Regions from separate parts of the Homo sapiens genome. Here all the other regions are linked to region 3. Evidence: fine-mapped expression QTL. A gene starts in region 3. Each other region holds a variant in brackets. All regions are shown on one strand. Distances are from middle to middle. Region 1 has its middle 32 kb from the start of TNS1. Region 2 overlaps CXCR2 (C-X-C motif chemokine receptor 2). Region 3 holds the start of RUFY4 (RUN and FYVE domain containing 4). Region 4 has its middle 28 kb from the start of TNS1.

Region 1 (2,743 bases), 34 kb before region 3:
CCGGTCGTGGTCCTTCCTCCCCCTTGGTCCACCTGCCTTGCCGCACTTCCCAAGCAGACTAGCACCGTCCTGGGCTGGCTACTTAACCTGTGTCAGGTGCCCTGGGCTCTGCCAACCGCCAGCTCCCGACTCGGGGCGTCGTCCCTCACCCATTCCCGCAGCCCCTACCTGAAGCGGTAGCTGCCTTCTCTCTGCACAGGCCAAACCCCCGGACTCCCAGCACTCAGCCCGCGCCGAGACCCAGGGACTCCCCGGGGGCTGGGGACCGCAGAGTGGTCCGGGCCGCAGCTCTTCGCAGCACACCAGGCTCACAGTGCAGCCCATCCGGCCTGGCGCCCCGGCGGGCAGGGGCGGAGACGCGGGAGCCCCAGAAGCCGGCCCGCCCCCAGCCCTTGCGACAGCTCAGCCCAGAGCGCCTGCGACATTGGCAGGCGAGCAGCAACGACCCCAGCCTGGCCCCGACAGAGTCCCTGCCTTTATGTCCAGCAGCGACAGGAGCCCCCACTGTGGGGCCTGATAAGGGTCTGCAATACAGGTCCCGAACACAGCCAGTGAGGAAGCCCACCTCAGGGAGGGGAGAAGGGAGGGCGGCAGTGGTGGAGTCCTTGGGACAGGGACTTCAGACAGTCTGACTTGGGGGGCAAGGTGAGAAACACACCAAGAACGTGACAGAGGGACAGGGAGAAGATAAAGGCAGACAATGAGGAAGAGGCAGAGATGAGGGACAGAGATGGGGGAAGCAGCCTCCGCATGGGGGATATAGGTGCAGGACGGAGCCGAGGATAGAAACCCTCGGGCATCCGTTGTGCTGGTTTTTAGATGCGGTTCCTGGGGTTTGTGAAAACAGCCGTCCTCCCAGGCCCCTGCTCCACTTCCCTAATACTAGCCCCTGGAGCAGCCGAGCCTGGAGAAACGAGGACCCGGCATGGAAAGACCCCAGGCTCAAGGAGGCAGAGCACAGCCAGGGTGGGGGACCCCAGCCCACCGGGGAAACCCGCCCGGCCCATTGCTGCGCACAGGATCTCACTGGTGGTCTCACATCCATCCTTTTGGGAATGGGATCAGGCCTGGGGGGTCGGCACTGATGACCAGCACTCAGGGGGACCGCCTCAGCTGACTGAGGTGGAGACAGGAAGGAGGAGCGTGGTGGGGCCCTCGACCTCCCCTCCCCACTCTGGAGCGCTGCCTCACAGCCCAACCAAGCGACACGGAAGAGACAACCACAGGAATAGCAGCTGCGGAGCTCCATGGCCTCCCTGTGCCCCCTGGTGGCGAGAAGGAAGAAAAGCAAGAGCAGGTGCTGAAAACGAAAAGGAAACTAGCAGCAGTCCCAGCTACCACAATGGATCAGCCCCCATTTGGCCAACAGGTGACTCTACCCCAGGTGGGCCTGAGAGGACCCATCC[C/T]CCATCTCACCATTCTGCCCCAGCGCCCTGGATCCTGCCTCTACCACTTCTTCCCTGCGCAGTCACTAGGGACGGACTCTGGCAGCAGAGCCGCGCTGTCGTGCCCCAGCCAGCCAGGCTCTCCTGGGTGAGTAGCAGGGAGACCCCTGGAACTTACGGGGATAGAAGGAGTGTGATGCCAGGAGCCAGGGGAGGAAAATGCCTGGCAGAGACGAGGGAGAGGAGGAGACACATGGAGCCGTTCATGGATTTCACACAGGATCTGGGCTGGAAGGGGCTGCCGAGACCATCAGTCCAATCTTTGGTCTACAGGTGGGGAAACTGAGGCTCAAGGAAGGTGAGTGATTTGCCCGAGATCACACAGTGAGTGTGTAGCCAGGCCAGGATGGAGACCCAGGTCTCTGGGCTCCTGACCCCGTCCTCCCTGAATCCCATGCCCCAGCCACCTCCCTCATTTACCTCCGTTTCCCTCTCCCCTTCCCTCCACTGTGTCCCACTGCTGTACCACTGCCACGCCACCCCAAACTCCAGCAGCCACAGCCCGGGAGGCAGGACACCTGGGTTTTCCGCTCCATGCCTGGTCTTGACTCTAGGATCTCAGAATAAGGCCACCTGCTCTCAGGGCCACAGTGTCCCCGTCTGGGCCCCAGGATCCATTGGGAGGAGAAGAGGATGAGATCCCCCAGGAGAGAGGCAGTATTAAAACCAGGCACCCTGCTCCCCCCACACACGCAGCATCTGCTCAGCTCCAGCCTTGGGGCCGCGCTTTACTTCTGCAACCTCTCCTCAAAGAACACACATTTCCATTCAGCTGGGGCCCAGGAAAAGATGAGTGGGTGTCTCGAGGAGGATGAGTACCCGGGTGAGGCTGGGGGCCCTCCATGGGGAACATGGGGACACTCCCAGCCTAGTGTCCACATGGCATGAACCCTCACGGGGCTGCTCACACCAAGTCAGGGCCCAGAACACAGGCCCTGTGGGCACACACACCTGAGTTCAAATCCTGGGAACCTCTGTGATGCTGGATAAAAGACTTACCCTCTCTGTGCCCCAGGTTCCCCTCTAGCCTCCCAGGGTTATGTGGGGATTGAATGGGACAAAGATATTAAACAATTAGCACAGTGTCGTCGCCCAGGGACTGCTCAATCGGTGGAGGCCACACCATCATCTTCACACCCTGGCCTACAAAATAGAGCTGGGATTTTCCCTTGCTGTGTGGCCAGATATAAGTCTTTCCCTCTCTGGACTTTACACAAAGGAGGCTCTGCATCCTCCTTTGTGTAAGGAGAGAGTTGGGCAGTGAGACTCAGGGTTCTTCCTGGGCTCACAGTCCAAGT
Region 2 (2,500 bases), 61 kb after region 3:
AGTGTTCATGGCTCTGCCTGGATTAATTCATTCATTTGTAATCAATAGCAAATTGATAAAATACATTCTTAGGGTCACTTAACATTGTTTTTAAAAATGCATTTGGACTTTGGTGGAATCTTCCCTTTTACCAAAAGGCTTTCTTTCCAAATTAGAGGGTCTTGGCTCCAAGGGTGGTAAGCTGCTGCAGAGTTGGTGTCCTCAGACCCAATGCCAAGTGTGCGAAACAAGAAAGAATATCAATACCCAGAGATGGACTTGTGGTCAGAGCAGATGGTTGGGGAGTGAGGGGAAAGACAAGAGGCAGGAGTGGGGCCAAGAAGTAGAGGCATCAGGTCCAGGGAGGAACGCCACCAGACTCACCAGAAGCTTTAGTCCATCTCTGTCATTTTAATGCACTGCTCCCTTTGACATGTGAAAGACATTGAAGGCTATAGTACTGCCAATGGTATGATGGGGAAGCCTGAGGCAGCTGGAATGCCAGGAGACTCAGACAAGGCAGCTGAAGGAGCCAGCGGCTCTGAGATACAGCAAAGATGAAAGAAATCCATGCAATCCTGGGCAAGCCATTTCCTTTGGGCTTCAGTTTCCCCATCTGTAAAATGGAAAGACTAGGTAGAAAACCCCTCAGGTCCCTTCCCAATATAAACTCTACGAGTCTATGAAATGACTATGCATCCGAGAGCTGATCTGGGAACTAATTATTCAAAGTTATCAAAATCACCCGCACCCTCAGGAGCTCCACCCCTGAATTGCATTGAGCAATCTAATCTACCACTCACTTCCTCCACTGTGTTCTCACCACCACCTCCCTTTCATAGGTCACAGCTGCTCTTCTGGAGGTGTCCTACAGGTGAAAAGCCCAGCGACCCAGTAAGTCTTGGAACACCCACCCTTCCCACCAGCTAGAATGTCTCTGTTCTCTGTTTCCCTTGATACCCAGCCTACATTTATCCTAAGCATCTCTCCCCACCCTTGGTGGGCCCCTCACCCTCACCCCTTGGCCTCTTCATTTTCTCCCTTTGGGGCTCTCCATCCCCAAAGGAAGAACTTCTGTTCCTCCTCCCTCACAACCCTCTCCAACCACTCAGGGCCACTTGCTGCCCATGCTTTTCCCTTGGCCTGGCAGCCTTCCAAGACTCAGCCAGCCCTCCTGGCCTGGGCTAGGACTGGGTCTGAGGATGGGC[C/T]GAACACTGTTCGCTTCCCACTTCCCGACACTAAATGCAATATTTGTGGATTATATTTATAGAGAGAAAGAATACTGGAACTGTACTAAAATGACTCTTTTGTTGTTAAAAAGATTGCCTTAGATGTTTGAGATCTTGTAAATGTCTCTCGTTCTATAGCATTTTCATGTAATAAATTAGAATTCATGCCATCATCTATGGAGTTTCCAAACTACCATGAGTCACTAAGGGGCTGGCATTTTCCCTAAGTCAAGGAAGCTCCCTTTTTATCCTGGAATATATGACTGTGTGGTCAGCCGGACCCAGCCAGTTCAAGGGTGTTTGGTTTATCATCCCTGCAAGAGCTGTTTCTTTCATTCTGGGCCAAAGAAACGGCAAAAGAAAACAATGCATAAAACATGAAAGAATGTGAGTGGACCATATACAGGTTGATTTAATGATATCTCAAGAACTTAGCTTTGCTGGGCACGGTGGCTTACACCTGTAATCTCAGCACTTTGGGAGGCTAAGGTGGGCGGATCACCTGAGGTCAGGAGTTCGAGACCAGCCCGACCAACATAGTGAAACCCCGTCTCTACTAAAATACAAAAATTGGCCGGGTGCAGTGGCAGGCGCCTGTAATCTCAGCTACTTGGGAAGCTGAGGCAGGAGAATCACTTGAACCCGGGAGGTGGAGGTTGCAGTGAGCCGAGATCACGCCATTGCACTCCAGCCTGGCAACAGAGCGAGACTGCATCAAAAAAAGAAAAAAAGAAAGAAAAAGAGAACTTAGCTTACAAATATGTTTAATAGATGAGGTGCACTTTTTTTAAGAGGAAGGGCTATAGACTACAAATAAGGCAAGTGTAGTCCTTTATACCTCACTGGAACAGTGGTTTCACCACTTCTCCACCCTGTGATCGCAGGCTGGTTACTGAGCCTCCCTGTTAGGTCAGCTGATCCTCCTTGTGCCTCAGTCTTCTAGAAACAGGGCCTAATTGTATCTATTTGTAATGAGCCATGGAGATCATGTACCTGTGAGGCACAAAGCAGACCTCAGATGTGTCATCTCCTTCCCTTAGTTTGTCCCTCTAACTGCCAAGTCATCCTCTGTAGAGATTGGTAAACTAAAAAACAACACCAACAACAAACACCCCTCTCCCTACCCTAGGAGCTGGAGGTCACTGGCCTGACCTGGTTCTCCTTGCTGAGTTCTCTACCTTCTGTCCTGACTTGCATGCTCTCCCTCTGGAACCTGAAGCTGACCCATAATGCCTGGGAGCATGAGCTCACCCATACACCTCCAGCCCACCCCCAGCACAGCTGAGCACTGG
Region 3 (2,743 bases):
AGCTGGGATGGAGCTTGTTCCCCACAGTTAGAGGAGGGAGGGAGTCACAGGCAAGCTCCAGGCTCTCCCAAGAGGCCGCTTAGAAACCAGCTCATCTGATGCAGATAGACACTCATCCCCATCCCTGTCCCTGCCACTGTTGCACACCAGCACACACACCTTCCCCTCCTTCTCGCCTTGATCATCCACCTCCACTGCCCCTGGCACCTCGCTCCATCCCAGCCCCACTGACTGTCCCTGCTCCTGCCCACCCTAGCCTGGCCCAACAGGCACCCCCTCATCCGTGTCAAAGCTGGCTGTGTGGGAGGTGGGGAGGCAGGGACATGGGGTGAAGCAAGGAGACCCACCAACAGGGAGTCCTGAGGTCACAGGGACCTAGAGAGGAGTTACCCATCCCTGGTGATGCCAAACACCTCCTCTTACTCTCCCAGGGAGAAACCAGCGCCACACCTGTACCAGGCAGAGTGGTTCCCTGGCAGACACCTGCCTCCCAGCTCAGACCTGGAGGAGGGCAGGGGGCTGGAGGACAGCAGGGGACTGGAGGAGGGCAGGGGACTGGAGGAGGGCAGGGGACTGGAGGATGGCAGGGGGTTAGAGGAGGGCAGGGGACTGGAGGAGGGCAGGGGGCTGGAGGATGGCAGGGGGTTAGAGGAGGGCAGGGGACTGGAGGGAGGCAGGGGGCTGGAGAAGGGCAGGGTGCTGGAGGAGCGCAGGGGCAGGGATCCTGGACAGGGCCTCAGACAGACTGAATTGGGAGGGCAAGAAAGAGACCAAGGGTGCAAAGTGAGACACAGGGAACAGAGAAAGGGAAGGAATGAGGGAAAGACAGGGATGGGAGACAGGGACATGACACGGGAGACAGAGATGGGGGTTTCAGCCTCTGCATGGGGGATATAGGGACGGAGGAGAGGGCAGACGGGCTGGGGCATCCCTTGTGCTGGTTTTTAGATGCGGTTCCTGGGGTTTGTGAAAACAGCCGTCCTCCCAGGCCCCTGCTCCTCTGCCCCCATACTAGCCCCTGCAGCAGCCCAGCCTGGAGAAACGAGGACCCAGCATGGAAAGACCCCAGCCTCAAGGAGGCAGAGCACAGCCAGGAAGGGAAGCCCCAGCCCACCTGGGAAACCCACCTGGCCCATTGCTGGGCACAGGATCTCACTGGTGGTCTCACATCCATCCTTTTGGGAATGAGATCAGGACTAGGGATTCGGCACTGGTGACCAGCACTCAGGTGGACCGCTCAGCTGACTGAGGTGGAGAAGGAAGGAGGAGCGTGGTGGGACCCTCGCCCTGCCCTCCCCACTCTGGAGCGCTGCCTCTCAGCCCAACCAAGTGACAGAGACGAGACAACCACAGGAATAGCAGCTGCGGAGCTCCATGGCCTCCCTCTGCCCCCTGGTGGTGAGAAGGAGAAAAGCAAGAGCAGGTGCTGAAAACGAAAAGGAAACTAGCAGCAGTCCCAGCTACCACAATGGATCAGCCCCCATTTGGCCAACAGGTGACTCTACCCCAGGTGGGCCTGAGAGGACCCATCCCCCATCTCACCATTCTGCCCCAGCGCCCTGGATCCTGCCTCTACCACTTCTTCCCTGCAGCGTCTGCGGTTCCCCCACCGCTGTGAGCCAGGTTCCCCCTCCAGGCTGCTGGGCTGGGACTGAGTTACTTCTTCCCAGGCTGTAAATCCTGGGACTGCTGTGCAAGGCAGAGTCACTAGGGACGGACTCTGGCAGCAGAGCTGCGCTCTCGTGCCCCAGCCAGCCAGGCTCTCCTGGGTGAGTAGCAGGGAGACCCCTGGAACTTACGGGGATAGAAGGAGTGTGATGCCAGGAGCCAGGGGAGGAAAATGCCTGGCAGAGACGAGGGAGAGGAGGAGACACATGGAGCCGTTCATGGATTTCACACAGGATCTGGGCTGGAAGGGGCTGCCGAGACCATCAGTCCAATCTTTGGTCTACAGGTTGGGAAACTGAGGCTCAAGGAAGGTGAGTGATTTGCCGGAGATCACACAGTGAGTTCATAGCCAGGCCAGGATGGAGACCCAGGTCTCTGGACTCCTGACCCCGTCCTCCCTGAATCCCATGCTCCACCCACCTCCCTCATTTACCTCCGTTTCCCTCTCCCCTTCCCTCCACTGTGTCCCACTGCTGTACCACTGCCACCCCACCCCAAACTCCAACAGCCACAGCCCGGGAGGCAGGACACCTGGGTTTTCCGCTCCATGCCTGGTCTTGACTCTAGGATCTCAGAATAAGGCCACCAGCTGTCAGGGCCACAGTGTCCCTCTCTGGGCCCCAGGACCCATGGGGAGGAGAAGAGGATGAGATCCCCCTGGAGAGAAAGGCAGTATTACAACCAGGCGCCCTGCTCCCCACACACACGCAGCATGTGCTCAGCCCCAGCCCTGGGGCCGTGCTTTACTTCTGCACCCTCTCCTCAAAGAACACATATTTTCCATTCAGCTGGGGCACAGGAAAGGATGAGTAGGTGTCTCGAGGAGACTGAGTACCCAGGCAAGGCTAGGGGCACTCCATGGGGAAGGAGTGGACACCCCCAGCCTAGTGTCCACATATCATGAGCCCTCACGGGGTCACTCACACCAAGTCAGGACCCAGAACACAGGCCCTGTGGGCACAGACACCTGAGTTCAAGTCCTGGGTACCTCTGTGATGCTGGATAAAAGACTTACCCTCTCCAATCCCCTGTTTCTCCTGGTCTAAAATGGAGTTAATAACCTCCAGGATTATGT
Region 4 (2,743 bases), 38 kb before region 3:
TTCCTTTGATTCCGAGACACGTGGGTCTTCCAGAGACATCATCAAAATGGAGGGACACATATACCAAACAGAAATCTGGCTTCATGATCTTCAAAACACATGCATGAAAGTGTTCTTAGCAGTGCTACTCACAGTAGCCCAAAACTAGAAATGACTCGAACGCCTGTCAATAGCAGAATGGATAAATGGACAGCGTGTCTTCACACAGTGGGACGCTGTCCAGCAATGAGAAGGAACGCTCAAGACCACACCCAGGAATATAGATAAAGTTCACAACCATGATATTGAGCACAAAAGAATACATATGATGTGCTCCACTGATTACAAGTGCCATTCATTTATTAGACATTCTAGAACAAGTAACTCCCTGTGGTTAGAAGTCGGGATTGCGCACTGCCCTCCAAGGGGGATTAGTGACTGGAAGGGGCAGGAGGCACATTCTGAGAGCTGTCACTGTTCTGTTTCTAGACTCTGCATGCCAAGTATGTGAGTACGTGCGTGTGTTCAGTCAGTGGGAAGTTTGTACACTTTTCTGTGTTTAGGAAATATTTCAACACACTAATACAGACAAATGCCTTCACAGCCACCCTCTCTGTGAGATGAGAGGGGTTATTTTCAACTTCCTCCTGCTCCTCGTCCACATCCAAGCCATCTCCATGTCCAGTCCTTTCTCCCAAGTTAGTCATGGCCCCACTCAGCCCTCTCCCTGGCTGACCGTCTCTAACTCTGACCACCGGGCACCTCCCTGCCTGCCCTGCCTCCCAGGCACCTTGCTTTGACTCTCTCCCTCCCAATCCATATACACACAGCATGTGTGCTAGGGCTCCCGGGGAGCCAGGAGCAGCCAGGAAAGCCTTTGTCCACTTCTATAACAGGTCCCGGCTCTTCTCCATGCTGGGACCTTCAAGTCGGCTGCTCCAACCACCTGGAATGCTTCTTCCTCCCAGCTGCTCTTGCTTCAGCTCCTCATTCAGATGTCACTTCCTTCACCTTCCCGGTGCAATCCCTCTGGAATCCTCACCCATCACATCCTGAACTTAGCCTCCATAGCACTGTCTCCAGTCAGCTCAATGACTTGTTTGCAGTCTGTTC[C/T]ATCTCTCCCACTGGATTGACAACCCCCTGAGGGCAAGGACCCGAGCTGTCTGCTTTCTGCCCTATCCCCAGCCCCAAGCTCCATGCCTGGCCTATAGCAGATGCTCAAAAATGCTTGAATCAGTGTTGAATAAATGAATGGCCAAGCGCATCTGGCTTACAGGCAGCCTCTGGGGAAAGCAAAAGTTGCATCTGGGGATGAAACCCTCACTTGTCTGGACCCAGGACTCCTGGGATGTGGTCCCAGCACTGAAACTCACTTCTAGTGTGACCTTGGGCAAGTCACACTGAGGACGCCCCCTCTGGTCTTCAGTGTGCTGTTTTGAAATACACGGGGTGGATAAATCAGGGCTATAGTGGGGCTTGAAGAAATATATGACATTGTGTATGTTTGCACAGTGGCTGTGTGTCTGTGTGTGTCAGTGTGTGTGTGAGACTGTGTGTAAGCGTGTGTGTATGCATGTATGCGTGAGCATGGGTATGAGTGTGTGAGCATAAGTATGAGTGTGTATGTGTGTGAGCATGTGTGTGAACTGTGTGTATGAGTGTATGTATGAGTGTGAGTGTGGGAGTGTATGTGTGTATGTGTGTGTATGTGAGTGAGCATGTGAGCATATGTGTGAGTGTATGTGTGTGTTTGTGAGTGTGTGAGCGTGTCTGTGTGTATGAGTGTGTGTGAGCATGTCTGTGTGTGTGTGTGTATGTGTTGTGTGAGCATGTCTATGAGTGTCTTGTGTGAGTGTGAATGTGTCTGTATGTGTGTGAGTGTGTCTGTGTGTATGAGTGTGAGTGTGTGAGCATGTCTGTGTGTGAGTGTATGAGTGTGTTGTGTGTGAGCGTGTATGAGTGTGTGAGTGTGTCTTTGTGTATGAGTGTGGGTGTGTGAGCATGTCTGTGTGTGAGTGTATGAGTGTGTGTTGTGTGTGAGCATGTCTGTGTGTGTATGAATGTCTTGTGTGAGTGTGTGAGTGCACCTGTGTGTATAAGTGTGTGTGTGCATGTGTGTATGAGCATGTCTGTGTGTGTGAGTGTATGAGTGTGTGTTGTGTGTGAGCAAGTCTGTGTGTATGAGTGTGTCTTGTGTGAGTGTGTGTGTGCCTGTGTGTATGAGTGTATGTGTGTGTCTGTGTGTGTGTGCACCTTCTCCCTAGCAAGAGCACCCATAGGTTACATCAGATTCTCAAAGGGATCTGTGTCCTCAAAAGGCTCAGAAGCACTAAGATCCTTTTCAGCTCTGGGGTCTCTGATTCTACATAACAAGAAAGAGAGGAAGAGGAGGTCATCCAACCCATGGGGGAGGGAGTCAGACCAGATCCTAGAACTTCCAAAAGGGTTGCAGGCCCCACAACAGGAATGCAGGGGAGGCTGCAGGACCAGGCCCCAGGAGAACGTCTAACCTCAGTAGTTCTCCGGGCTGAAAGAAGCAGAGCCCAGAAGAGCTGACTGCAGAAACGGAAGAGGCAACAGCAGCCAGGAGTCTCCTCCCCACTGCTCCCGCCCCATCCACAAGCACCCACTTGTCCTGGGATACAGCAGAGAGCAAGGAGGCACGACTGGCACCCGGAGATGCCCGCCAGGCCCCTTGGCACCCAGAAGGCTTGGCTGGAGGACTCAGGAGGGTGCCAAGCCCCAACCTCTTGCTCCTGAGGCT

Evidence for each region. PIP is the estimated chance that this variant, and not a neighbour inherited with it, causes the effect. A credible set is the group of variants that fine-mapping cannot tell apart.
Region 1: its variant is the best candidate, but not a certain one, in a credible set for the expression of RUFY4 in blood mononuclear cells (TOPMed, PIP 0.86).
Region 2: its variant is the best candidate, but not a certain one, in a credible set for the expression of RUFY4 in whole blood (TOPMed, PIP 0.68).
Region 4: its variant is the best candidate, but not a certain one, in a credible set for the expression of RUFY4 in whole blood (INTERVAL, PIP 0.77).

The regions. Positions count from the first base shown.
Region 1 is chr2:218,033,652-218,036,394 of GRCh38, forward strand. It overlaps a transcript of TNS1 not described here and a transcript of RUFY4 not described here. Among named protein-coding and RNA genes, the nearest start is that of TNS1, 32 kb to the left of the region's middle. RefSeq lists enhancers at 673-1,206, 1,207-1,739, 2,595-2,684 and a silencer at 1,533-1,582. The variant C/T (reference allele first, on the strand shown) is at 1,407.
Region 2 is chr2:218,128,493-218,130,992 of GRCh38, forward strand. CXCR2 (C-X-C motif chemokine receptor 2) reads left to right here. Exons shown (of 3, transcript NM_001557.4): 2 at 822-873. Among named protein-coding and RNA genes, the nearest start is that of CXCR2, 3.7 kb to the left of the region's middle. The variant C/T (reference allele first, on the strand shown) is at 1,188.
Region 3 is chr2:218,067,580-218,070,322 of GRCh38, forward strand. It overlaps RUFY4 (RUN and FYVE domain containing 4), which reads left to right and starts at 1,674. Exons shown (of 13, transcript NM_198483.4): 1 at 1,674-1,769; 2 at 1,902-1,979. RefSeq lists an enhancer at 1,423-2,286.
Region 4 is chr2:218,029,349-218,032,091 of GRCh38, forward strand. It overlaps a transcript of TNS1 not described here. Among named protein-coding and RNA genes, the nearest start is that of TNS1, 28 kb to the left of the region's middle. RefSeq lists an enhancer at 2,301-2,743. The variant C/T (reference allele first, on the strand shown) is at 1,093.